7 separate regions of the Homo sapiens genome follow, and regions 1, 2, 3, 4, 5 and 7 are each linked to region 6. The links come from fine-mapping of genetic effects on gene expression. A gene starts in region 6. Each other region holds a variant in brackets. All regions are shown on one strand. Distances are from middle to middle.

The links. PIP is the estimated chance that this variant, and not a neighbour inherited with it, causes the effect.
Region 1: its variant is the best candidate, but not a certain one, in a credible set for the expression of JAK1 in whole blood (INTERVAL, PIP 0.76).
Region 2: its variant is the best candidate, but not a certain one, in a credible set for the expression of JAK1 in whole blood (INTERVAL, PIP 0.71).
Region 3: its variant is the best candidate, but not a certain one, in a credible set for the expression of JAK1 in neutrophils (BLUEPRINT, PIP 0.89).
Region 4: its variant is the best candidate, but not a certain one, in a credible set for the expression of JAK1 in thyroid (GTEx, PIP 0.58).
Region 5: its variant is the best candidate, but not a certain one, in a credible set for the expression of JAK1 in cerebellar hemisphere (GTEx, PIP 0.56).
Region 7: its variant is the best candidate, but not a certain one, in a credible set for the expression of JAK1 in blood mononuclear cells (TOPMed, PIP 0.58).

Annotation. Positions count from the first base shown.
Region 1 is chr1:64,829,082-64,833,161 of GRCh38, forward strand. It overlaps RAVER2 (ribonucleoprotein, PTB binding 2), which reads left to right. Exons shown (of 12, transcript NM_001366165.2): 12 at 1,758-4,080. The coding sequence ends at 1,904. Among named protein-coding and RNA genes, the nearest start is that of RAVER2, 86 kb to the left of the region's middle. The variant A/G (reference allele first, on the strand shown) is at 2,476.
Region 2 is chr1:64,835,349-64,839,348 of GRCh38, forward strand. It overlaps JAK1 (Janus kinase 1), which reads right to left. Exons shown (of 25, transcript NM_002227.4): 21 at 3,117-3,241; 22 at 2,584-2,756; 23 at 750-867; 24 at 48-158. Among named protein-coding and RNA genes, the nearest start is that of RAVER2, 92 kb to the left of the region's middle. The variant A/G (reference allele first, on the strand shown) is at 2,307.
Region 3 is chr1:65,119,235-65,123,314 of GRCh38, forward strand. No RefSeq gene overlaps it. Among named protein-coding and RNA genes, the nearest start is that of AK4, 27 kb to the right of the region's middle. The variant A/G (reference allele first, on the strand shown) is at 2,009.
Region 4 is chr1:64,935,392-64,939,471 of GRCh38, forward strand. The region is part of intron 1 of JAK1 (Janus kinase 1); the gene reads right to left. Among named protein-coding and RNA genes, the nearest start is that of JAK1, 29 kb to the right of the region's middle. The variant A/G (reference allele first, on the strand shown) is at 2,070.
Region 5 is chr1:64,924,539-64,928,618 of GRCh38, forward strand. All of the region lies in intron 1 of JAK1 (Janus kinase 1), which reads right to left. Among named protein-coding and RNA genes, the nearest start is that of JAK1, 40 kb to the right of the region's middle. The variant T/C (reference allele first, on the strand shown) is at 1,805.
Region 6 is chr1:64,964,853-64,968,932 of GRCh38, forward strand. JAK1 (Janus kinase 1) reads right to left here and starts at 1,697. Exons shown (of 25, transcript NM_002227.4): 1 at 1,481-1,697. RefSeq lists a silencer at 1,042-1,921.
Region 7 is chr1:64,769,436-64,773,515 of GRCh38, forward strand. The region is part of intron 2 of RAVER2 (ribonucleoprotein, PTB binding 2); the gene reads left to right. Among named protein-coding and RNA genes, the nearest start is that of RAVER2, 26 kb to the left of the region's middle. The variant ATAGATC/A (reference allele first, on the strand shown) is at 1,778.

The DNA.
Region 1 (4,080 bases), 140 kb before region 6:
CACTGTGAATGGTGTTAGCACCATTGGGAAGCCCTTTGAATAAAAGAATGTAATAAATTTCCTATCTGGCTTCTGACAGTGAAGATGGTATAGAAAGACAGAAACCCAGGCTGTTGCTTTGCTGCATGCCAAGACATGAAAGAATAGATAACTACATGGCAAGAAGAATTGGGGAAGGTGGGTGAGAAGAGCAGGAGCATCCCAGATCCCAGAGTGAGCAGTCTGCTTCCCTCCCCCAGTCTTTGGAAAATCTCACTTGTAGAATGGACTGATGACTTCTAAGAGGAGGAAAGCTGCTAAAAAGAGTTCTTTATACCTGAAGTAAGGTCTGATGGTGTTAGTGGCTGGGGTCCAACATTCAGAAAGATCACCTACCAGCGAAGGGGCCCTAATGAAGAAGGCAGCTGGAGAGAATAACCAAGAGGCTGGAGACTGGGAGGAAGGGTTTTTGGGGCAGAGGCTCCACCTAAGAGGTGAGCAAGCTGTTTGGTGCAGCAGCCCTTCTCTAGGGCTGAACCCCTCGTCACCATCAACTCAGCTTTGACAACTATCAACTTACGGCAGGTCTCCTTTCATCTACCCTCTCACCTGCTTCCCTTCTAACATTCTAGCACAAACCCCAGACATACTTTACTACCAGGAAAAAAATGTCGAGGCAGAAATTCAAGCCAGATTCTTTGCCCATCAGCTTCACTCTGTGAAACATTCCTTTACACTGGGCTTGTGTGAAGACGCTTTGTATTGGTCTGTCCCCACAGTAAGCCACTTTGAAATGAGATACCAGAGGACGCAGCGTTCTTTCAGTCTTGTCATCCCTCTAACATGGACCACTGAGAACTACTTTAGCAAGGAGTTGAGAGAGACCTATCATCTGTTCCCTCTGAGGCTGGCTGCACTTTTAAAAATTGTGACCGTTGTTGGTTCAAAAACAATTGCAGTTTTAATTGCAACGTGAGAAGGCTCCTGTGTGTTACTGGAAGCTTTACTCATCAGTCATTTCTAAGTTCTTGCATATTAAGTCACATAATTCTGCATTGATAAAAGCTTGCTGCACTTATTTTTGTAAAAGCTGAAACTAAGAGGCATTAAGCTGAGCAGTGCTACACCATCTGATTTACTGTGCTGATCACTGTGACCACTTGTGAGGACATGTGGCCCACTTTCAGGTCAGAATCTCTGGGATGGTGCCTGAAAACCTGCATTTTAATATGCTCGCCAGGCGATTATTGTGGAGACCAAAGCTCTGAGTTTCCCATTGCTCTCTAGAATGTTTCATGTTGTTTTCTTTGATGTCATTTGTCAGTTTCTACACCTATTGATTTATTCTCTCACCACTCCTCTTGTCACCAGGCACACTTAACATCTAATTCAATATGCAGCTTGATGTCTTAGCCACTCCTCCTTCAGAGGAATACTGACATTCGGTGTTGATATTCTGAGTCCGTGGGTTTAACTAGCTGTGATCAGCAGAAGCAGCTGCATGCAGTGCTCTAATTTTTTCTTTTCCCAAAAAGTTGGGGTTGGGAGTGAAGGTGCTGAGACTGGTTTGTGTCTTGCAGAAATTCCAAAGGCGATGTTGATACAGAAATTTAAAAGTCTTATTTAACAAAGGGGTTTGTGTATTTTTTGATAGTTTGGGTATTTATCCTGTTATTCTATATTCACCAAGTCAAAGTGGAATGCTTTTCTTATAAATATCTTTAATGAATAAGCCAACTTTAGATTTTAAAACTAGCTGCAATTTTATTTTCTCATAGGTGTCATCTTTAAGAAATGAAAAGCGAGGCTCATCATATCTCATCTCTGCCCCAGAAGGTGGTTCAGTGGAATGTGTTGACCAGCATTCTCAGGGCACAGGAGCATATTACATGGAAACTTACTTAAAAAAGAAGCGAGTATACTGAGTTAAGCTCTCTCCTAATAACCCCCTAAGGTTCTCTGCAGTATCTCTGCTGTTCATCGCTGCCTTAACTTCATTCAAACTAGCCATATCCTTTAAATACGGGTTTATAGTTTCCCAGAAGGAACTGTGTTGTGCAGCAGGCAGAAATGCCAAATAAAAAATAGCAATAAGAAGAGACATCAATTGAGGACATTTTCCACTAGAGTCAGATGCATCTTAATCAGTGTGCTAACTTACAATCCATTGGAGAAACTAACAATGTTCCAATATTCCTTGATTTAGGACTGGGAATAATTCTGACACCATATATAAAAGAAGTTTGAAGCAATAAATGGGAAACAGTGTTGTTTCCTGAGCCTTAGAAGAATGAGTTTCTTATAAGCCAATGTGCATTTCAATTTACTTTCCCTAGAAGTAATTGCATTTATAGATTTTTAGGACTTTTCCTAGAACTACAAGGGTGCAAGTACCAAATGTGCTGATGGTAATATTATAAAGATGCTCTACATGCACACTCAATTACGCCCACACCAGCCATGCAAAATTAAACCCGGTAAGAGAGTGACAGTGAT[A/G]TCCAAGGTATCCACTACTACCGATGCTTTAAGATGTTGTTTACCATTTATACCTTCTGTGAAAAATAGAAGGTATTTTAAGAAAAGTAACTTTGGTGATCTAATAAAAGGGTTTGGCAAACTACACCCTGGGTCCACATTTGGTCTACCACCCGCTTTTGTGCTGCCTGCAAGCTAAGACTAATGTTTACATTTTTAAATGGTTGGAGGAAAAAAGAAAACTTATGACATGAAATTTATATGAAATTCAGATTTCAGTGTCCATAAATAAACTTTTATTGGGACGTTGCCATGCTCATTCATTTACGTGTTGTCTGTGGCACTCTTACGCTACAAGGGCAGAACTGATTAGCTTCAACAGAGACTGTATGGCCTACAAAGACCATATGGCCTAAAATTTCAAGTATCTGGCCATTTATATATAGTTTGCTGATCCCTGATCTAATAGCACTAATTCTAATAGCAACTATTCCTTTCAATTCACCTAAAGACAGACCTTTAGCCTTTAGACAGACTTGTAAGTGGAAAGGAACATGGGTTTCTGTGCTCATTTCATAGCGTAGACTAGTAATGATCTAATGACTAGAATGGGGCCTATTTTGATCACTAAATGCCCTATTATTTCCACAATATAGTATAGTAAAGCAGTCAATACTGCACTTTCTGATGGAGTCTTAAGGAGTCACAGTATTTATAACCATTTTGAGCTAATAAGCTATACCTCACTCTCTGCTTTCTCTCTCACTCTTTTTGATAGTGTGTTAGGGTGAAAAATCAGTTATTTAACCCAATTTACTTGTGAAAGAAGTTTTATCTTTATGGACTATGATGACTTTTGACATCACCATTTCTTGAAGACCTTGGTATTAAATGCATGAGAAACCTTTTGCCATCTAGAAATTTCTAAGTTTGTTTATGTTATAAGACTGTAATTAATTGATAGGGAATTTGGGATCTCAATCCGGGGCTTTTTGAAATCAGATCATTAAATATCTCGTCACTTTGGGGACTTGTTATTTTTAACTATGATGTGGATATCCTGTTTTAATTATGAAGTCTAGAATTGGTACATATGTTGTATGCTTTGTAAAGAATTTCACTTGGTCTAATTTATTGCATATACTAGCTTCTGTTGGAAAATGACTGACAGCTAGAAAGTTTAAGGTAATTTCTAAGTATACTACCTATAAGTAACTGATAAGAATTAGGCATCATTCAGTGATATAGCAGATGACTAATGGGTTTTTCAGGCCCTGCACTTCTCTTTCCCATTTTCCTGTTGCATTCAGCCTCTTCAATGCTTAGTCACACCTCCACTATAGTACAAACAAACAAACAAACAGAAGAAAGGAAAGATGGTGAATTTTGCAACAGAGCTGCAAAAAGTCAGTCAGTCAAAGCAGGAAGAGGTTGAAGGAACTAAAACAAACAAACAAAGGTGTCTGGACTACAGCACAGTGGACATGCCATCCATACTGGCCTGTGCCCCGTTATCAATCACTGGGCACAACAGTGAAGAAGTGCAAATCAAGTGGTGTTTGTTTGTTTGTTAGTAGTAAGGACCGTAACCCACCCCTTCCTCCCCCCAAAACTATACTGTTATTT
Region 2 (4,000 bases), 130 kb before region 6:
ACATAATAGAAATGGAGTGTTATTACTGTGACGTGGCCCATAGATACCTCATCTGGACAGTTAGGTGGGCACGGCAGGCGTTTTCCTTCTTTTAACGTATTCACAAGTCTTGTGACTGTCATCTGGCCATGGGTTGGGCCTATCATTTTCAGGAACAACTATATAAAATAAAATCAAACAAAACGTTTAACTTTGCAAGTATTTACATAAATGCCAAACAGATTAAGGTGAAATTTCTACAATCAACTGGAAATTTAAGTAGCAATAAAAAGGCTTTTCTCCTTAGTAACTTTAAATAAAAATCCAAAATCCTTATTAGCTTTCAATGATCTGTCTCTAACCAGTGTCTTAGACTCTACCAACCACTCCTTGTGCTTGTGCTGGTCAAGGAGTCTGTTCCCAAGAAAATGATCTGATTTAGGAATGAAGGAGGCACAGACAAGGCTGGTCCCTACCCAGTGCTACCCCACTTAACTTGCTCATTTTCCCATAAAACTGCCCTTCATCTCTACACAGATAAGATCCTTGAGAGTCAAGGTCATCCTATAGAACTCCGGGCTCGTTGTGAAAGCAAGACTTTAGAGATTCACAAATAACTGTCAAGTAGCAAACCAAGTTAATGGGAAAGTGACATTTTCCATTATAATACATTCATTGGATTCCATTTAAAAACAAAAGTTAACCAAGCAGAGGGATGGACACATTTTAAATGGGTACTGGATTCAAATGAAGAGAAAAGTAGGACTTACAGCCATGGGACTAGAATCTGAATCACAGTAAGTCAGCAGCTCATGCAGAGTGACTCCAAAAGACCAGACGTCAGAGGCAATATAAAATTTAGATTGCATTAAACATTCTGGAGCATACCTTGAAAGGAAGCAGAACACAAAACTTCATTTCCTGGGAGGCACACTCCATCCGACATTACAGGATAACTGAAAAATCACCTCTTCGGTTTTTCTTATAATTTAATACAGCATCTGACTGTGTATTATATATTTTACACATACCATGTATACGCTGCTATGGTGCACATCTGACCTATAGTACGGTATCCTTTACAGGCTCTCGGTAGCACGTATCTGCCCTAAAATAACACGCCAAGTCTGTGCTCTTCATTTCACTGAGAACATGCTCTCAGGGTATGGGAGGAGGTGGCCGTGTAATGATGAGCCCCAGGTCTGATTTGCCTGCAGGCTCTAAATGAGACAGCAGTGGCCTCACTGCACAATGTGGCATCGCTGTCCAATCCTCTTCCAGCATTGCCTACTTTGCTGAATGACACCCACTTGCCCAAGCCAAAAATGAAGGCATTCCACCGCACCCAATCTCCTTATATACTCCTTGAACCTACTCACTTCTCTCAAACCCTACTGTCACTCTCCCAGTCCCTGTCCTAATTCATGCTGTCACTAGCTCTGGCCTGAGCTGTTGAAGCAGCCAAATCAGACTCCCTGGCTCCAGACTCCCTGGCTCCAGACTCCCTGGCTCCAATCTTGTTCCCTTCATTCAGTGGTGGTCTTTTTAAAACAAAGTCTCCCTCCTTAAACTCTCCAGCAGCATCCCATTGTTCTTGAGATGAAGTCCCAGCTCCATGACTCAAGCTTCCTCCTGCAAACCTCCTATTCCATGATCTGACCTCACTGAGGTTCAGTTCCTGGGAAATCGACTGCTCTTGTCTCATTCTTCCTAGTCACGCATGCTGTCTAGCAACCGTCTGTCTAAACCCGCATGAATCTTTCAGGTTTCTTCTGAATACTCACGACTTCCAGAAAACCAAGCCCGAACCCTTCTGTATGTTTCCTGCTCCATGCCGTTGGCTGCCTAGCCTGTTAAACTCTAAACTCGGCCTACTTGTTCACCATATCTCCAGTACTGGCACAAAGCAGGACCTTGATGCATTTTCTTAAATGAATGAATGAGTAAGTTTAGGCTCCATAAGTGGGAGAGGTCTATGTTTGTGTCCATGTAGGATGCACCTAGGGGAGTGCTGATTGGTTATGTCGTTATGTGGTTACGTGGCAGGGTGCGGTAGAGATGTAAGCAGCCTCTCCCCTGGACAGTGTTCCCGGCTGAGACATGGTTGTAGCCAGTGTGTGGCCTTCTAACCTGGGAACCTCTGGTGATTCATGAGACAGCCAGGTCTCCCGTAGGTTTTGCTCTGCTCTGTCCAGGAGTTCCCTGAATCTGCAATGCCCACTCTGTCCTACAGCCTCCCTCTGCAGGAATGTGTTTAAGAAAGGAACTAGATTCTCTCCACCTGCTCACAGTTTTAAGAACTGCATCAGATGAATGCCCTCTCCTGG[A/G]AAGCTAGGAATGTTGAGCTGGTGGTTAGATTTCTTTCATTCCTTGGAAGACGGTGTCATATGAAGCTCAGTCATTTATATAGGCTGCTTTCAATGAAACAGGCTGAAAGGTGTGTTTCTTGAAGATAAATATCAATCAATTCCAAATGTTCTAAACCTTCTCTAACCTTGAGTCAGGCCAGAGGAATGAGACACATTAATATAGCCAGAAAGGGCCTATTAAAACAGTGTAAACTCTATGAAGCATTGATAAAACCTAGTGGTTTGATTCAGTTACCAAAACACAGGGCTGTCCCGGTCATCCTTGACGGTGTAATACTCCTTATCGGTTTCAATTGCTTTGGTTAAACCGAAGTCTCCAATTTTCACTTGGTGTTCACTCTCAACAAGGACATTTCTTGCTGCCAAGTCCCGGTGAACGTATTGCCGAGAACCCAAATAGTCCATCCCCTGAGAGAGAGAAGTAAAAGTCAAGCACATTGCTAAAGTCACTTTAGATTGTATTATCTATCACTTCATCAGAAAAAATAGAAATGTCATTTCATTCACATATCACTGACAATTTTTTTGGTTCTGACTTTTATGCAAGAATATTAAGAACAAACTGATTCAAATAAATACACATTAAAATAACCATATTTAAATCCGTTTACTTTCTTAGTAGAAGCTAACTTTTCATCTAAATAATGCAGAGAAAAACAAACAGTATAATTATCATAAACTTACCCACTTAGAGTCAAATTACAAACCAATTACCCAGGACAGAGTGCCTGATGTCTTAATCTGTAACATGATGTCTTTATTTTTTACCTTACAAATCTGAACGGCATATTTTAGCTGCTGTTTGAGGTTTATTTTGTTCTTATTCTTTGGAAGATATTCCTTAAGGCTTCCCGAAGGCAGAAATTCCATGATGAGCTTAATACCATTTCCTCCTGTTTAGAAAAAACATCCATCAGTCTGAGGCTGCCAAATGAGGGAACCATGGGAGAGGCAAGGGCACAGGATATGAGACAGAGGCCCTGAGGTGACGCCAGCTTCGCCCCTTCATTACAGGCATGTTACTTGACCTCTTATGCCTCAAGATCCTCAGCAGTGAATGGAGATGGTAACAATGGTGTACCTACCTCACAGGCATAAGCACTCACTGAGATAACAGTCAGAGTGCTCTGTAAACCACAGGCAAATGACTGTTTTCAAAAATTATCGGGCTGGGCGCGGTGGCTCACGCTTGTAATCCCAGCACTTTGGGAGGCCGAGGCGGGCGGATCACGAGGTCAGGAGATCGAGACCATCCTGGCTAACACGGTGAAACCCCGTCTCTACTAAAAATACAAAAAAATTAGCCGGGCGTGATGGCGGGCGCCTGTAGTCCCAGCTACTCGGGAGGCTGAGGCAGGAGAATGGCGTGAACCCGGGAGGCGGAGCTTGCAGTGAGCCGAGATTGCGCCACTGCAGTCCAGCCTGGGCCACAGAGCGAGACTCCGTCTCAAAAAAAAAAAAAAAAAAAAAAAAATTATCATCAGCTGTCAATTTCACTACCATGAGTAGATGCTGGCTTGCAAATAAGATACAATTATTAGTAAATATTACTTGCCACTTTGATTTAGACAACTAGAAAATGAAATACCCTGGCTAGTATTGGATCAGAACAGGAAGTGGGTGGAGGTAGAGTAGGAATCAGTTTCATAAGG
Region 3 (4,080 bases), 150 kb after region 6:
AGTGGAAGAAACAAAGGAGGACATAACTGAGAGGTGAGGATTCAAAGCAGTGGTGGATCCATTCTTCTCTTCCACCAGGGACTTCTCTTCCAGCAAGAGGAAGAAGAATGGCATAAGAGGGACTGTGATGTAGGTAAGTTTGGGAGATGTGGGTAGTTCAGTAGTTTCCTATTTAAGTGGCTACCACTTACTGAGTACTTATTACATGCCAGGCACTATGTCACCATCGTATTTAATCCAAACTATAACTATGCAAGACTACCATTTGACCTTCAAGAAAACTGGGCTGGCCGGGCACAGTGGCTCACTCCTGTAATCCCAGCACTTTGGGATGCCGAGGCAGGAAGATCACCTGAGGCCAGGAGTTCAAGACCAGCCTGGCCAACATGGTGAAACCTCGTCTCTTCTAAAAATACAAAAATTAGCTGGGCGTGGTGGCGGGCGCCTGTAATCCCAGCTACTCAGGAGGCTGAGGCGGAAGAATCACCTGAACCCGGGAGGCGAAGGTTGCAGTGATCCAAGATCGCACCCCTGTACTCCTGCCTGGGCGACAGAGGAAGACTCCGTCTCACAAAAACAAACAAACAAACAAACAAAACTGAGCTGAGGAGACAATTCGACAATTCATGCAGTCAATAAGTAGGTTGCAGAGGTGAGGCTCAAACTGCATTCTTCTGATTCAGAAGTTATGTAACTTCCCTTGTGCGCTTTGGTAGACCTCTCCATAGTTGGTTACCACCACTCTTGAGTCCTGTTCTTTATTATCTTCTTACCTGGTGGGTAGGACGTCTGCCTCAGTCCTGAGATCTTTTGCCTGATTCTATTTTGTCTCAGTCCTTTTTTTTTCAGTCCTTGGGGACACTGTTTTGATGGCCAGACCATGTTCCTTCTATCTGAATGTGCATTTGTGTCAATCCACAAGGCTTGGTCATCCCTGCTGGATGGATCTAGTCCCAGCTCCCGATTCCTTACTACTCTAAGTAACTAGGTTAGTAGAAAATTAAAAGTCAGGATAACTAGATGTTATAATGTGTGTGCTTTATGCACTAAACATCTATTATTTCTCTTTTTTTCTTTTTCTTTTTTTGGTGGGTGGGGGACGGAGTCTCGCTCTGTCACCTAGGCTGGAGTGCAATGGTGCGATTTTGGCTCACTGCAACTTCTTCCTCCCGGGTTCAAGCAATTCTTGTGCCTCAGCCTCCCAAGTAGCTGGGATTACAGGCGTCTGCCACCACACCTGGCTAATTTTTGTGTTTTTAGTAGAGACAGAATCTCACCATGTTGGCCAGACTGGTCTCGAACTCTTGACTTCAGGTGATCCACCCACCTCGGCCTCCCAAAGTTCTGGGATTACAGGCGTGTGCCACCGTGCCCGGCCAACATCTATTATTTCTAGTCCTGACAACTCCAGATAAAATATAAAGAGACAACAGCCTTCTAACGGGGATATGTGTACACCCTCCTCTGAGTCAGGAAGACTTCCAAGAGGGATGCAGGTGAGGATAATACTATGGTCTGAATGTTCATGCCCCCTTAAAGGATATATTGAAATCTTAACTTCCAAGATGATAGTATTAAGAGATGGGACCCTTTGGGAGGCGATTAGGTTATGAGGGCAGAGCCCTTTCGAGTGGGATTAGTGCCCTTATAAAAGATGCCTGAGGAAGCTCGTTCACATCTTCTACCACAGGAAGACACAGCTAGAAGGTGCTATCTATGAACCAGGAAACTGGCATTCACAGACACCAATTCTGCTGGGGCTGTGATCTTGGACTTCCAAGACTTCAGAACTATGAGAAATACATTTCTGTTATGTATAAGCCACCCAGTCTACAGTATTTTGTTATAGCAGCCCTAATGGACTAAGACAAATAGTTTTAAAGAAATAAAAATTTTCGGATCCTGAGCTTCCATATGTGCTGGTCCTAAATTGATCTGCCTAACAAAGTGGACTGAGGGAGATGCAGGTCCTTTGTTCCTACCTTCCTACCCACCTACTACTTCAAGC[A/G]AAGAAAGATGTGCACTCCATCCATCTCAAGCTTACTTTGGTGCATTGCTCTGGGGTAAAAATATCCAAACAAAGAGGCAATTAGAAATATTGATGATGGCGTTGAGAACTGAGTAACTCTAATAACTGGGTATCAATGCCTTTTTGTAAGTCAGGTGGTTTCTAATATTTTGTTTTCAACAAAACTGAAGGAAATCTTAATTAAGGTTGACAGTAGATCATTAAAATTATTTTTGATGACATATAACTATGTGATTCTTTTGTTTTGTTTTTTGCTTTTTGTTTGTTTTGTTTTTGTTTTTGTTTTTTGAGAGGGAGTCTCGCTCTGTCGCCCAGGCTGGAGTGTAGTGGCGCGAACTCGGCTCACTGCAAGCTCCGCCTCCCGGGTTCACGCCATTCTCCTGCCTCAGCCTCTCTGAGTAGCTGGGACTACAGACGCCCGCCACCACGCCCAGCTAATTTTTTTGTCTTTTTAGTAGAGACGGGGTTTCACCGTGTTAGCCAGGATGGTCTCCATCTCCTGACCTCGTGATCCGCCCGCCTCGGCCTCCCAAAGTGCTGGGATTACAGGCGTGAGCCACCGCGCCCGGCTTTTTTTTTTTTTTTTTTTTTTTTTGAGACGGAGTCTCACTGTGTCACCAGGCTGGAGTGTAGTGGCGTGATCTCGACTCACTGCAGTCTCCACCTTCAGGGTTCAGGCGATTCTTCTGCCTCAGCCTCCCAAGTAGCTGGGACTACAGGCACATACCACCACGCCCAGCTAATTTTTGTATTTTTAGTAGAGATGGGGTTTCACCATGTTGGCCAGGATGGTCTCCATCTCTTGACCTTGTGATCCGCCATACCTCGGCCTCCCAAAGTGCTGGGATTACCCGCGTGAGCCACTGTTCCCCGGCCAACTATGTGATTCTTTTATTTATTTATTTATTTAATTATTATTATACTTTAAGTTCCAGGGTACATGTGCACAACGTGCAGGTTCGTTACATATGTATACATGTGCCATGTTGGTTTGCTGTACCCATTAACTCGTCATTTACATTAGGTATTTCTCCTAATGCTATCCCTCCCCCAATCCCCCACCCCACAACAGGCCCTGGTGTGTGATGTTCCCTGCCCTGTGTCCAAGTGTTCTCATTGTTCAGTTCCCACCTATGAGTGAGAACATGCAGTGTTTGGTTTTCTGTCCTTGCGATAGTTTGCTCAGAATGATGGTTTCCAGCTTCATCCATGTCCCTGCAAAGGACATGAACTCATCCTTTTTTATGGCTGCATAGTATTCCATGGTGTATATGTGCCACATTTTCTTAATCCAGTCTATCATTGATGGACATTTGGGTTGGTTCCAAGTCTTTGCTATTGTGAATAGTGCCACAACAAACATATGTGTGCATGTGTCTTTACAGTAGCATGATTTATAATCCTCTGGGTATATACCCAGTAATGGGATCGCTGGGTTGAATGGTATTTCTAGTTCTAGATCCTTGAGGAATCACCACATTGTCTTCCACAATGGTTGAACTAGTTTACACTCCCACCAACAGTGTAAAAGTGTTCCCATTTCTCCACATCCTCTCCAGCACCTGTTGTTTCCTTTTTAATGATCGCCATTCTAACTGGTATGAGATGGTATCTCATTGTGGTTTTGATTTGCATTTCTCTGATGACCAATGATGAAGAGCATTTTTTCATGTGTCTGTTGGCTGCATAAATGTCTTCTTTTGAGAAGTATCTGTTCATATCCTTTGCCACTTTTTGATGGGGTTGTTTGATTTTTTCTTGTAAATTTGTTTAAGTTCTTTGTAGATTCTGGGTATTAGCCCTTTGTCAGATGGGTAGATTGCAAAAATTTTCTCCCATTCTGTAGGTTGCCTGTCCACTCTGATGGTGGTTTCTTTTGCTGTGCAGAAGCTCTTTAGTTTAATTAGATCCCATTTGTCAATTTTGGCTTTTGTTGCCATTGTTTTTGGTGTTTTAGTCATGAAGTCTTTGCCCATGCCTATGTCCTGAATGGTATTGCCTAGGTTTTCTTCTAGGGTTTTTATGGTTTTCGGTCTAACATTTAAGTCTTT
Region 4 (4,080 bases), 29 kb before region 6:
CGGGTTCAAGCGATTCTCCTGCCTCAGCCTCCTGAGTAGCTGGGATTACAGGCGTGTGCCACCACGCCCAGCTAATTTTTGTATTTTTTAGTAGAGATGGGGTTTCGCCATGTTGGTCAGGCTGGTCTCGAACTCTCCTGACCTCGTGATCTGCCTGCCTCGGCCTCCCAAAGTGCTGAGATTACAGGCGTGAGCCACCGCACCCAGCCCATAATTCATCTTTAAACCAACTCTCCAACAACCTGTCCTCTTTCCTCCTACTCAGACTGAATGAGAAGTCTGGTCTTGGCAGTCCCTTGATGTTTATCCAGCCTTTCCTGCTGTGACAGAATACTTGATGTGCTACCACAGAACTGCTTGCAACGCTGACGGGTCATCTCTGATGCTAAGGGAGAAGAAAAGGGAAAGTCCCTGGAGAGCCACCATATTGAGTCTTTACAATTTCATCTAGTGGACTGTGGAGCCATAAATGGTGCACAATAAATCCAGGAATGCTGGAGGGCGAACTGACAGGATCCAGTAGGAACATCTTAGAACAGACCGGTGTGTGTCTCAACACCTAGGACAGCTGCCCCACAAACAGACGGTCCAGGGACACACCCTTGCCCCTCCCCATTTCACAAAGCTCCCATGGGGCCTTGTCTCCCAGCCTCTAGCCTTACTCCAGTGTCAATATGGGATCCGGCAGGAAGAGGCCAATGTGCAATTACTAAATAAAACTCCTTCATTGACTGAGTTGCCTCCTCTCCTTCCAGGCTCAAGATCAAAGATTAAGCAACAGAGGAGAGGTGGAAGTTTATCAGAGAATCAGGATTTCAAGGTTGGAATGGACTCTACAAAACATTCACCCTCCTCCTCCATGGCAATAACTATCCATACTTTCATTATTAGGCCAAATAAGCCTCTACATTTACCCTCAACTCCACAGGCCCATGGATGGACTCTAAGAGTATTTGGTATTTAAGATAAAAATACAAATTTGACACAGTGCACCCTCCAATGCAAGGTAGGAATTGGTGGGCACCTTGAAAGAAGTATCCTTGTTAAACCTCTAAGACTCTTGTATTGTGGAAGAATTAATTCATTCTTGGGGAAATCCAGTTATTTCTCCCATGAAGACAAAGAGAGGTACCTTATGTCACTCACCCATCACCTGTCTAGACACCCAGGACTTTCACAAGTATGACTGGAGAGGTGAGGCCAAACACAAGAGCTGAGAAACAGCACAGCCCTGTGACCAGTAGCCAGGGTGTAAGCCCAGCTCCACCACTTACTAGCTCTGTGATCCTAAAAAGCAGGAAAACACTAGGACCTACCTACCTCATTTGCTTGTAAAAAGATTAAGTTAGTTAATCTACTTAGAACACCATAAGTGCTATATTTCTTCCATAAATGAAGAGGCTAAGCCAACGTTTCTTTGAAACATGGTATCCCACGTTGGTGAGAATTTCCAATGTGACAGCAGAAAACAGTAGGTTGTACCATATGAAACTGCCAATATTTGACCATTTTTATGTACAAAAATGGCAATTTTATATTAATAAATCAAATATATGTGAAAAAGAATACAAAGCAGTGCATTTACAATCATCCTAAATGCCTAAAGCTTAGGCCTTTTACAGAAAATATTTCAAATGACTGTTTAAAAAAAAAAAAAAAAGGATCAACTATTTGTATGGGGCTAATCCTCCCCACCCCCAGTTTGGTCTACAGGACCTCATGTAGATTGAGCAACTTTGGCTATTTGGGTAGCTGATCCACTGCCAAGCTGGCTCCCAGCTACCACCTGTTACTTTGACAACTCTAGCTTCAGGGCTACCAGGACCATTTGCAAAACTTACACCCACAGAAAACTCAAAGTCTCCAGAGGCATAAGCTCCAACCCCCAGAGAGCTCCACAGCATTCTTCTCCTTCTAGTAGTACTTTTGGTTTCCAGGAAAATCATCTCATGCTCGGGCCACAGTCACAGTCCTGACCAGCACCATAGAAATTTCAGCCATTATTCTAGTTGTATGGAGTCATTCAAAATACTAATTCCGAAAGAAGTTTCAAAGGTCCAACGCCGAGC[A/G]TCTTTTACCTTTGCTAATTTTTCCATAAATTGAAAGCCTTTCTAGAAAGAAAGGAGCGTATCACTGTTAAACTTCAATTATACAACACAGGCCCTCTGTTACAACTTCTTGTCAATCTATAATTATTTCAAAATAAAGTTTCTAAATAGGCATTAGTGGAACACTGATTAGTAACTGAAAACCAAAGCAGACTTAGTCGATCATAGAATGACAAAAAAAAACCTGGAAAATGTTGACCTCATTATTTCAGTTTTTCAGACATATCCTTAAAGCGAGGTCAAACTGATCCATCAACAAGTCAACTGAACATTTGATATTCTACCTTGGAACAAGGAAACCCAACCATCGATCACTCCAACATTGTCTGAGATACACTAAATTACTCTCACTGTAAAAGTTTCTTGAACAGAGAATGTCAAAATCTTCTTTTTTTTTTGAGAGGGAGTCTCACTCTGTCGCCCAGGCTGGAGTGCAGTGGCGCGATCTCGGCTCAGTGCAACATCTGCCTCCCGGGTTCATGCCATTCTCCTGCCTCAGCCTCCCAAGTAGCTATGACTACAGGTGCCCGCCACCACACCCAGCTAATTTTTTGTATTTTTCAGTAGAGACGGGGTTTCACTGTGTTAGCCAGGATGGTCTCGATCTCCTGACCTCGTGATCTGCCCACCTCGGCCTCCCAAAGGAGAATGTCAAAGTCTTTAAGGCTAAGAAAGAATGTAATTTCATGGCTGAAAAAAAAAAGTTTTTTTTAAAAAAAAGTTCAATTATACAAAGATATAAAAAAATACTCTTTCGTAAAGAACAACTTTGATGAAACCTTTTAGATGTACTGTGTGATTTTATGTCTTCAGTCCACTATAATAGAAAGGCTCTTTTCAATGACTGCCCCAGTAATAACAGGATAGTAGCAGAATCTTTCTGGCCTATAAACTAAGCCTAGTTAGGAAACAAGACCCAGAAGCATTTATACTTGTCTGAACTCTTGATTCCATGTTATTACATGAACTAAGTGAAGACCTGAACCAAGATCATCAGCCTTCTATTAAGGCACACAGATGATCTGATTGGCTTGGGCTTAATGGTCATGTTTCAGCTTCATTTTATTGCTCCGCTTCCCTTGACACCAGAACTATTTATCTCCTCTACTTCTCAATACTAAAACCATTTATAAATCCCAAGAACAGTATTCACTGTAAATCAAACTAGTAAGTAAACTCGTTCTCCAACACCAAACCATACACTTTCATGTTTCTCAACTAAAAGTAGAGTTCATTACAAAAGAAACTGAGAAATGCCTCCTCATGAAGTCTCTCTTAATATTTTATGTCTACATAAGGATATGATGTGGGTAGAGGTAGATGGCAGCACCAGTGTCTCAGGAACTGTTTTCTAGTGCCCCCCAAAACAGAATCACGGGTCTCTATCCTCCCCTGGCATTCTTAATGTTATAATTAATAGTTAATAATTAAAATACTTAATTAACTGAACTAAACTGAAGATCCACCTAGCATTTTTTTCTTTTCTTTTCTCTTGAGACAGGGTCTCACTTTGTTGTCCAGGCTGGAGTGCAATGGCATGACCATGGCTCACTGCTGCCTTGAACTCCTGGGCTCAAGCAATCTTTTCATAGGAACTGTTGGAGCAACTGTTTGGAGAACTACTATCTGAAAGACAATAACATATTTTTCCCTAAAGACATTCTTGCCCCCAGGGCACACTTTTCTGGCTGCCATCAACCCTGCTGCCTAGATTCAACGAAATGGGGATGTCAGATGATTCTGTGAGCAACAGATCTAGGCATGAACATATACATATAAGCACAACTCATACCTCTAAGGGTGACCATACAGCTAGGAACAGCAAATGGCAGATTACCATGCATAACACAGGACAAGGAAAGAAGTTCAAACGTCTAATCAGTGCCAACTTCCATACATTCACACAAGTTCACAATAGTTTCACAGTTTGCAGAAGTTTGGAGTCACTAGTTTGCAGTAAGCGGAAAGCATG
Region 5 (4,080 bases), 40 kb before region 6:
ATGAGGCCAAGTAGGGTCTTGTCTTTGTATGTCATGCATCAACCTTAGAACTATGTGTGGCTCCTAAGCAGGTGCTCAGTAAGTCTGAGGAAGTGGGTGGTAGTTCTTCTAAAATTCCTCTGTTTGTTCTGAAGTAACAGAAAAACAGAATCAGTATCTTCAGCAAATTGAAAGATGGCATCTACTGGACAGGACTGTAGAACTGCTGACATTCACTTAAAGCCACAAACACCTTTATAGGATGCTATTTTTCCAACCCCATAATGATGATCTAAAACCAGGACAGCAAATACACATGGTCAGCAGGGGCTGAACAGGCAAAGCACAGAGGATTTTTAGGGCAGTGAAAATACTCTGTGTGATACAATGATGGGTACATGTCATCATACATTTGTCCAAACCCATAGAATGCACAACTCCAAGAGTGGACCCTAATCTAAACTATGGACTTTGGGTGATAATGATGTCAGTGTAGGTTCATCAAGTGCAACAAATGTACCATTCTGGTGGGAAATGTTGGTTATGAGGGAGGTTATGCAAGTGTGAGATCTGTACCTTCCTCTTAATTTTGCTCTAGGCTGGGCGCAGTGGCTCATGCCTGTAATCCCAGCACTTTGGGAGGCTGAGGCGGGCGGATCACCTGAGGTCAAGAGTTCAAGACCAGCCTGACTAACACAGTGAAACACCATCTCTACTAAAAAAAAAAAAAAATACAAAAAGTTAGCAGGGTGTGGTGGCGCACACCTGTAATGCCAGCTACTTAGGAGTCTGAGGCAGAGGAATCGCTTGAACCCAGGAAGTGAGCCAAGATTGCACCATTGCACACCAGCCTGGGAGACAAGAGGGAAACTCTGTCTCAAAAAAAAAAATTTTTGCTCTAAACCTAAAACTGCTTTAAGAAAATAAAGCCTTAAGGAAAAATAAAACAAGAAGAAGAAAACTGTGTATACATCATGGCCTGATGTCCCACAGAGCCTGGGAATGACTTTAAAATCCATCTCAATGTGGCTCCAATGAGTCCTGCCAACTGATTAGGCTTCCTGACCTCAAAAATATGGGAGAAGACAATTAGTCGGTTCAAACTGACTTCCTGTGGGTAACTGGGCCTTCCACACCATGCAATCTAGTAATTCCGACTAACATCATCTGAGCACTTACCATGTTCTTCAGGCACATAGTGTCATGCACTTATTTGACCTTTATATAACAATGAGACATGGTATAAATCCCTACTTTACAGGGAACTAAATGAGGCCCAAACACAAGACCCAAGGTCAAATGCTGTTAAAGCCCAGATTATACAGCCCAGATCTGTCTAGCTCCAAGCCTGTGCCAGTTATTTGCAATCACCTATAAAACCACCTGTCTGGAGGAGTGGGGTCATAAAGCTTCCCACTATAGTGGTACCTCTCCTCTGTATGAACCCAGGAGGTGGGCAGGCTCCTTTAGGTAGATGACAGATAGCATATCAAATAAAAGCCAAAACAAAATTCCTCTCTGCTGCTCAGCCAGAGTCACAGAAAGCTGAGAAGATACCCAAATTAGATCTTTAAACCAAGCTGTGGACCCCAGGACCACACATTCCCTGATGCATAAACTGAAAGCTTCGCAATGGCATCAAGCCCCAGTGAGTGCTGGCTCTAACCTATCTTCACTCCAGTTCCTGCCTCTCTCCTACGGCCAGTGCTATTGTCTCCAGACCCCACTTTCCAACTCTGAGTACACACTAGATCTTTGCTCACCTGATGGTGCAGAGGAAATGCTCCTCCTACCTGCTCCAGTATATGTGACTCCTGCCCATTTT[T/C]CCAGACTCAACAGCAGGATCCCCTCCCCCCACCCCCAAGTGGCTCCACACTGCCCAGGTGGAACAAACTGACCCACTTCAGAGCCATCGCAGCACTGTTCATGCACACACTTTCCTCAGGGCCCTTACCCCTGTCCTCCTTACATTAACGATTATCAGTATACACGGCCCTTCCCTAGAGGGTTACTTCCTAATGCACCCCTGTATTTTCCTACAATGCTGACCACAACCACCACCACCACTAGATATACAGTCCACCTGATGAATGCTTATGACTTGATGTGGCTGCCATTCTATACACATTTTGTTTAATCCACATATTAGTTCCATTTTACTGATGACGAAACTGAGGTCTGGCATGACCCAGCCTTCACTGGCACTACAGCATAGCAGATATAAGCACAGTCTGGAACCAGAACACGTGTGTTTGAATCCCAGCTCTACCACGTGCCAGCTGGGAAATCCTGGGTAAGTTATTTATCCCATCTGTGCCTCAATTTCTTCATCTGTAAAACAATGATCGTAACACATGCTCCGTAGTATTTTGGTCAGCATTAGAAGAGTTAATGTATGTGAAGGCACTCAGCACAGTGTCTGGACATAGCAGGAACTAAACAAGTGCTTGCTACTGTTATCATCATCACTGTTTCCAACCTTGTCTTCCATTATGCCCCAAGTCCATATTTTTATGTCCTCAAATATACCAACTACTTCCCACCTTTGTCCAAGCTGACTCTTCAGCCCTGACTGCTCTCTGCAGGCCAGGTCCTCACCATTCTTTGGGTCTGCTTATGTGCTCACCTCTGATGGGCGTACCCTGACGACCCTATTAAGAAAGAGCTCTGTCTCTCTGGCACGGTCTCCCGTGTCCCCTCCCCCCACTCCCCAGGTCCTATTCATTTTAGCACATCCTTGTTTCTTTTCCTCAGGGCACTTATGACAGCCTAGAATTGTTATGTGTTGATCCATGTATTTGTTTTGTGTCCACATCCTCACTAGAGATGAGGGAAAGAACTGCGTCTGTCTTCCTTTTTTTTCCATCTTCATCCAGCCAAGGGAAATGCTCAATAAATATCTGTTGAATAAGTGGGCAAATGAACGAATAAATGAGGCTCAGAAAGTTTAATAATTTGTCAAATATTACACAGACAATCAACAGAAAAGACAAACTTCAAACCCAGATTTGACTCCAAAGATGGTGCTCTTTGTAGCTTGGTACCCTGTCTCCTTTTACATTATAGGTATTTAAGAAGTAGCTGTTGAATTAATAAATGAATGAACTATAGAATCCTTAAGGTAACAGGTTGCTGATGGTTGCTGCTGCTATGGGGACAGCAGGAAATAAACATCCTGCAAAGTGCCATTCTCTCTATTTGGTCAACGATGAGTATCGATCAACTCAAACGTCTATTAAGCAGCCACAATGAACACATCTGTATAATGCAAAAGAATACAAAGCCCCTGTATTTGGCTGGAAGATAGCAGGTAGAATCAGGACTACAGCATATGGTTGGGCAGGTTGGGCACTGCCAAGAATGCCCAACTGAGGTAAGAAAGTGATGGCTGAAATCCAATCTGCCTTTTACTAGCCAGGCCACACTCTCTGGTGCAGGGCTACCCCACTCAGACAAGATGCTGTTTTCTAATTTTCACAAAGACAATATATAGACTAGCAGCAGCCCTATGGAGGGTCAGTCTTATTTCTTAAGGCTGGGTCTCTCTACCATGGGAGTTTAATGGCACAAAAGGCACTGACTATTCAAAACACAATGCCCCTCCAAACCTGCCAGTGCCCCTGAAACAGCCGCTTGGGGTGAAAGCATTCTATGCCATGAGGTGCTTATGATAATACAAAAACAGGGAGGGGTAGCTGGTTCCTTCACTGCCACCTTTTAACTCAGACTAGTCTATCATATTGGCCTCTAGTACTTGTCAGAGCAGAGAAGCCTGAAAGTTGGGACCTGAATAGATTAAGTTTCCATGCAATAAAAGGTGATGAGAAAGATTCCAGAACAAAGAATACTGCGAGAAAAAGTAGGCTCAGGCTGGGGACCCCAAAATCACGCATTTCCCTTTCTCCCTGAAGCCAGCTCTCACTGCACCTAGTAGGTATACAAGAGTGCATTCATGTGCCTACACAAATATGCACACACAAAACTAAAGAAAGGATGTCACTTGAGCACACAGCTTCCTGCCCCCTCCAGGAGTCCTAACTGCTCAGCAGAGAAAAATAGCTTAGAGGAGCATAAAGAGACCCAAGAACTCTTCCTCTTGGC
Region 6 (4,080 bases):
AAGCATATTGTACCAGAAATGTCTGGAACCCTGGTGGTCTCCATTAATCTTCACCACAAAGTACAAAAGAACACATTGATCCTTCAATGAAAATAATCCCCTGGTCTTGGAAAACATCAGAGTCACCAAAAGCAAAATCAAGAAACAACACATAATGGGGTTTTGGAAAGGGAAGAACAAAGATTCAATCAATACGAATTGCTCATCTTAAACAAAATCTACTGTGCCTATACCCATATTTAACTCAAATCTTTTCTTCAAAAAATAAAAAAATAGCCAAAACCAAACACGCCCTGATTTACATCTCTCTCTGCATTATTCTCATCACTTAACTACCCATGTTTTACTCCCTGAAAGAAGTAATGACAATTTTATACCACTGTAAATTCCTGCCAGTGAGAGAAAAACCCTATGACTTGGGGGGAAAAGTGTCAATGACATGTATAGCGATGTACTCAACCAGGGGCAGAAGGCAGCTCACAGCCACGTAGTAAGAAGAGTGGCAGGAAGGACGGGGTCCCCTTCCCCAGGAACACACAGGAAATCATGGAGTGCAAACCCTCCAAAAAACGTGTGCACAAACACCTGGCAAACATCGCATCTTTTATCTAGAAGTTCCGTGGTAAACACACATCCAAGGAGCCCACATCCCAGGGACCCTGGGGAGTGACTTTGGAGGAGTGTCTATTAGTCCTCCGATGCTCCCGGTCGCCGACGATGCGCGGATGGAGTTGGAGTGAGGGAGCCAGAGACCAGCCCCAGTTTCGGTTAATCAGTCCCTTTCCAGTGGGATTCGCAATTCCCCGGGTAGTTCTCTCCCACTGTTCCCCTTCCCTGGTCCTCTCGCCCAGGGTCTCCTTTCCCACTTCTCGCTGGCTACCTGAGGCCTGGTTCCTAACAGAACCTAAGAGGGGAGGGGGCGTTTCCCGAGTTCGCGGACGCCCAACACCCAGCTCCAAATCCCAGAAACTTTCCCTCGCTGAGACCGCAAGGAAGGAAAAAAGCTAAGACCCTCAGCCTCCTTCCTGGGGCCGAAGAAGAAAACCTTTCTGCGCTGCCACCCCGGCCGGGAGCTGGCGGTCAAGTTCGCGGTACAAGGAGCTAGGGACGTCAGCCCTCCAGCCCGCGCCTGTATCTCGGGGTGGTATAAACAGGATGTCAGACAGCGCGCTCCGGGCTTGTTTATGAAAACTTGCCGTGCGCGCTGGGGGAGGGGGCGGCCTGGCTTAACCGCTCTTCTCCCGGCCGGGGGCCCCCGCCCGGCGACCTCCTCGCCGCCCGCCGGCTCCGCGGGGCTGGAAATCCCCGCCTTCCCCGCCCGAGCCGCGGGGTCCTGAGCTGCGCTCAGGAGCAGCCCGGGCCGCGCAGCCTAAGGACCGACCAAGAGCGGTGGCCGCGCCTCCGGCCAGTCCGGGCTGCGCGCCCCTCGCCTGCCGACCGCGGCCGCCCCGGCTCCTCCACCTCCCCCGGTGACACTCACCACTTCCGTGTGCGCCTGGGCCAGGCAGCGCCCCGTCGCTGCGCTGGCTGGGGTCGACCGGCAGGCTCGCTAGGCGGCCAGCCCCGCGGGGCCCCAGCGTGCGCGCGCCCAGGGCTGAGGAGGGGTCGCGGCGAGGACAGCCGGGACTGGGCGCAGGCCCGCACTGTCTGCAGCTCCAGGATACTCCGCGGCCGCCGCGGCCTGCGCTCAGCGACGCACCGCCTCCCGTCCCGCCCCGCCCCGCCCCGCGGCCGGCCCCACCCCCGTGGCCGCCGGGCCCACCCCCTCGCGACGTCACCAGCGGCAGCCCCGGAAAGCGGGGCGGGGTCGCGGTCCCGGCGGAGACTCTGCGCCTCCGGCCTACCCGCCCCGCCCCCATCCGGCTTCGCTCGCGAAGCTGCCCCCACTCGTCTCTGTTCACCGCGTCCTCTAGATTCTAGAATCTAGAAACTCATCTAGGACGCGAGGTCATCTATCGCGGGGAGTAAAATTGCCAGGATTCGCCCGTAGATTGACCCCTCCCAGCTCTGGAGCCCCCTCCGCCACACCTTTGTGCGCTCGATGCAGAAATGCATCCCGCCTCCTCCGTATACGCTCCGCTTCTTACCCCAGCTCAGTAGGAGAGGAGCTAGTGGAGCACTAGACTAAAAAGAATTTAACAATACAGCCCCCAGCTTGGACAAGCTACTGCAGATCCAACCCATTCCGTATTTTAAAAGCTCTTTACGAAAAAAAAAAAAGCATATGCATAATAGGAATTAGAACTACATTCACTGATACCTAATGCATGTACAGCGCTTTTCATTTTTTACTAATAACCTCTCAAAGTAGTAGCATCATCTTATCCATGAGGAACAAATTAAGTCTTTAGTGTCTTAATCAAGGTCACACTGTAGCCAAGATTCATACTTCGTAGGCAGTCCACGGACAAATCCTAACAATTTTATTTCCTTAGGTATCTCTCCAATCAGTTCACTTGTCTATGTTCCGGCAACACGGTCCGAGCTGCCACCATCTCTCACCTGAAGGGACCACGAACATCTCTTAAATCGTCACTCCATTCACTCCAGCCCCCAATTAATTCTCTACAATGAACTTTTAAAAATTCAAATCTGTTCCACACACTCCCATGCTTAAAACACTCCAGCGACTTCCCCCTGACAATCCCTGGATGAAAATCCTCCGAGGCCGTGCACGGTCAGAATTCTGCAGCTTCAGGGCTGTGGACAGAGGCTGCCCCACCTGTGCTGACTTCACTAACCCTGCTGGACAGTTCCTGATCACTTGAGTTACTGCAACTGAAACTGAGCAAGATATTCTGGGTGTGGAATAAAGTCAAGCATCCGAATTAGACTACTGAATTTGAGGTTTGGCCTCCACCAGTAACCACCTGTGTTGCCCTAAACAATTCTTAGTTGACTCAATTCTCAGTGGAGCAGCAGACAAAAGGATCTCCAAAGTGCCTTCCAGAAGTACAGAAAAGAGGACCAAAGAAGACCGGAGATCAGAGCAGACAGGGAGGCAACCCGGGTTGCCTGCATTGTGGGTGTTTGTGTGCAAGTCTTGTCTCATCTGCCACACTCTGAACAACACCTCAGGGCTGTTTGCATCATTTTCTTCACCTGTTAAATAGGGATAATGCCTTCCTTAAAGGGGTTTTGCTGAAGGTGAACTATGATAATATAGCCCACATGGCATGGGCTCAGGAAGTGGTAGGGGTTTTTATTGAGCTGGACCATAAAGAACAGGTGAGACTGACATGAAGGGAGACAGAGACGTGAAAGAACAGCATTTCAGGTGAGGATGTAAAGAAAAAGGAAAGTCAGGAAGGCAGCAGTGAACCCATTGTGCCCACGAACGAATCTGGCTGTTCACAGGGTGGAATCAGGGGGAGAGGGCCTGGATTCAGTTTAGATCTGTTCGTCTATAACAGACATTGTGCTAGGTGATGAAGATTCAGAGAAAAAAAAAATAGACTAGGTTCCTGACCTCTGAATGCTCAATGCAGTCAGAGAGACAGGCAAGTAACAATTCAGTGATTCCCGGTCCTGTAATGGTGATCACAGAAGACAGTCACCCAGCCGAGTCTGAGGAAGTCAGAATAAGCTTCAAGTAGCCGACAGGAGGCAGGAGTCAGGAGGTAGCGGCATATTCAGGCAGTAATAGTATATGCTGGCTGGGTGTGGCGGCTCATGCCTGTAATCTCAGCACTTTGGGAGGCTGAGGCAGGAGGACTGCTTGAGGCCAGGAGTTTGACACCAACTTGGGCAACACAGCAAGACCCTGTCTCTAAAATAAAAACAAACAAACAAACAAAGGCCAGGTGCAGTGGCTCACGCCTGTAATCCCAGCACTTTGGGAGGCCGAGGTGGGCCAATCACTTGAGGTCAGGAGTTTGAGACCAGCCTGGCCAACATGGCGAAACCCCATCTCTACTAAAAATACAAAAATTAGCTGGACGTGGTGGCGGGAACCTGTAATCTCAGCTACTTGGGAGACTGAGGCACAAGAATCGCTTGAAGCCGGGAGGCAGAGTTTGCAGTGAGCTGAGATTGTGCCACTGCACTCCAGCCTGGGCGACAGAGCGAGACTCCCTCTCA
Region 7 (4,080 bases), 200 kb before region 6:
TTCCAATTTATGCAATTACATTTTGATAGCCATTAAAGCTGTTCACAAATTCTTGTTCTTTTTCTTCTGAGCACAAGGTAAGATAGTACTTACCTGTGCCTCTTTGAAGTTGAGAGTGGACTTGTGATTTGCTTGTTGATGAATGAAGTGAGAGTGAAAATGACATGTATCCCTTCCAGGTGAAAGATTTCAGAGCCAGCATGTGATTTCCTGCTCACACTTCCCTGTGCTAAAGTAATTGGGGAAGTAACAGAACCTCTTTCAACCTAGGTCTCAGAGTGACTATAATGAGCAAAACGTCCTTCCTTCCTTACCTTCAGCATGGGATATGCAGCATGAATCAGAAGAAAGCCTTTTGTTTTGTTATGCCATTGAGATTGTGCAGAAGTTTGTTACCACAGTATCTTGACTAACCTATAATTTTACCATATGTGCCTATATATAATTAATGGTAGTCTCTGTTTTAAACTTTTCATAAATGGCATTCTAATGTATATTTCATTTAGCAACTTGCTTTTTTTGGGTTAACGCAACATTGTTTTTCAGATCTTTCCACATTGATATATATAACTCAGGTTCATTGATTTAAGCTACTACATGTAATTATCATGTGAATTTATTACGATTAATGTATTTGTTACTGACTGGCATTCAGGAAGCTTTACCTTTCCCAGTATTTCAAACAGTGATGCAATGAATAGCCTTTTAGTTGATTACTAATATACATTTCAACTGTTTCTCCATAACTGAAGCTCTGAGTCATAGGTGTGCACAATTTCAATGTTACAGATATTGACAACGGGATTAGAGGTAACAGCCTTCACAGCTCACATAGAGCCAGGAATAGTGCTATTCCCACTAGTCAGGATGATAAACCTCATAATTCATGGGGCATTAGAAGTAATAATCAGAAAGTTTTTGCTCAGGAATGGGGAAAAGTAACTCAAGACCAATGATGCTCTTGTCCTACCTAACAAAACTTAAAAACAAGACCAGAACGGATCAAAGTGCTTCCTCATAACTTAACCACATCCTGGAACAAAACTCAAGAATATTTGTATGCATCCAAAACATCTGACACCCAACAAAGTGAAATTTATGATGTCAGACATCCAATAAAAAAGTAGCAGACATGATGAAGAAGCAGGAAAACCTAATGTATAACGAGGACAAAAATCAATCACAACTGGCCTAGAATTGACACAGATGAATTAATAAAAATGGACATTAAACCAGTTTTTATAATAGTGTTCCATATATATAGTAAGTTATAGTAAAGATTGAACATGGTAAATAGAGACTTGGAAGATATAAAATATCCAAATCAAACATCTGGAGATGAAAATTACAACATCTGACATGAAATACACTGGATAGGATTAATGGCAGAATAGACACTGTGGAAGAAAAAATTAGTGAACTTGAAAACAATGATGTAAGTGATCCAAAATGAAACACAGAGAGAAAAAAGACTGTAAAACATGAACAGAGTATCAGTGAACTGTGGGACAGCTTCAAGAGCAATTAGAGTCCCTGGGGGTAGGAATAGTTAAAAAAAAATTAAAGAATTAGTAGCTGAAAAGTTTTAAAATTTTGATGAAAATTCTAATCCCAGAAATCCACAGAGCTCAACCAACTTCAAGTACAAAAGCATGAGGAAAACTACAGTGTACGTTGTAATCAAATTGCTTACAGTTAGTGATAGAATGTCTTAAAAGCAGCCAGAAAAAAAGTATACATCATTAATACATTTAGCGGGACAAAGATTAAGATGACC[ATAGATC/A]TTGGAAACAACACAATTGAAAAGACTGTAGGGTAACATCTTTTCATTCTTTACCAAAATAAACAAAAACACAACAGGTCCACATAGAATTCTTAACCTATTGAAAATATCTTTCAAAAACAGTGATGAAATAGAGATGTTTTTCAGTCATACAAAAGTTAAAAGAATCATCACCATTAGACTTGCACTATAAGAAATACTTAAGGAAGTCCTACAAGCAGGAAGAAAATTATAGATGGAAATCTGGACCTACCCAACAAAATGATGAATACGTGATATGGTCATTACGTGGGTAAAGACTTTTTTCTTAATATTGAAATCTTTTAAAAGTATAATTGACTGTTAAAAGCAAAAATAATGACATTACATTGTGAGATTTGTAACACATGTAGAAATAAAATGTGTAACAGCAATAATACAAAGGCTGGGAGAGGAGAAATGGGATTGCACTGTTTGAAGTCTCTTATACAGTACATGAAGTGGTGTGATACCGTTTGACAATTGACTGTGATAAGTTAAAGATGTATACTGTAAACCTTAAATCACCTGTTAAAATCACACAACACAGAAATCATTAATTGTATTAAATGATTTTGCCTTGGATTTTGGAACCTATAGTGGTGTTCGTGGAAACAGATATAATTAATAACTCAGTTGATAAAAGATGCAATTCTTAACTATAACCTTGCAACCAGAGCTTCCTATGGTAGATATGAGGAAATTATTATAGTAAAATAGGATACATTAGGGGAAAAAGTTTTGGCACATGCTTGCCTTCAAATTAGACCCAATAATAAACTAAATAGTAGACCATGCAATGACTTTTAAAAGAATTGGGATCAATTGTGGGATATTTAAATTTCACAAGGAAAATGGTAATGTAATTAATCCCAAATTCCCTTACAGCCTTTTCTCTGTAGAGTGACATCTACCATTTCTATGAGAACTAGTATGTGAATTTTTTTATTTTTTATTATTTTAGAGAATTCGTGGCCTTGGAAAAACATGGAAGAAGCTATAGAACAGAAAATGTGACCTCCTTTCCCTACTGTCTGAACTTTTAAATTTGTTTCATTATGTTATTTAAATTCTTCCATAAAACCTAAGTTGAGCAAATGCAGATACCTAAGAAAAGGACAAAGAGATTTTCAGTTTTTAAATTATTAGTTGATTTATATATGCATTTATTTATTCATTCATCTAACACAAAGCTTCTACCATATGTCATGCACCATGATAGTTGGTGGAATTAGGGAGCTCACAGTTTAGTAGGGTAGCAGGCATCTAAGCAAATAGATTACGATGTGATGTGATCTATGCAATAATCCGAGCAATGTTCAAGATAGAGAGGTATAAAAAAATAAAGAATGGTTAACTCTAAGAGAGGATCAGGGAAGCTTCCTGGAGATCATGATGGAGTAATGCATGGACGAATTTGAAAATCAGCTAAAAGGTTCTAGGTATCCTAAGGTATGGGGAGTGATCTTATAGGCAAGGGAATTAAATGTGTAATATATGGATACCTGAAATAACTGGATCTCTACAGGGAGCTACAAATATTTCAGTGTTCTTGGAGAATAAAGAGCTGTTGGGGAAGGGAGGAAGTATGGCAGTTAACAAGGCTGGAGTTAGATATAGCAGGCATTGTAGAGCATGATTACCAATCTGGCACTTGGCTTTTTTTGTGAGTAATAGCAAACCTTTGCATTTAAGGCAGTAAACAGGCACAATTAAACTTCTGTTTTTTAGAGATCACTTTATTGTCACTGTGGAGAAAGGATTAAAAAAAGAAAAAGCTAGAGGACTGAAGAAAGGGGGATGGATTCAAGACCTATTAGACGGGTGGAATTTGAGGATTCCTTTTATATGGGAAATGAGGGAGACAGAGTCTAGGTTAATTCCCAGGTTTCCAATTTCTGGGTGTTGTGTGACCAGCTAAAATAGGGAATAAAGGAAGATGAGAAGTATTAGGATTTTTTTTTAATATACTTAAAGTTCTGGGGTAAATGTGCAGAACGTGCAGGTTTGTTACATAGATATACATGTGCCATGGTGGTTTGCTGCACCCATCAACCCGTCATCTACATTAGGTATTTCTCCTAATGCTATCCCTCCCCCGCTACACCCCCCGACAGGCCCCAGTGTGTGATGTTCCCCTCCCTGTGTCCATTTGTTCTCATTGTTCAGCTCCCACTTATCAGTGAGAACATGTGGTGTTTGGTTTTCTATTCTTGTGTTTGCTGAGAATGATGGTTTCCAGCTTCATCCATGTCCCTGCAAAGGACATGAACTCATCC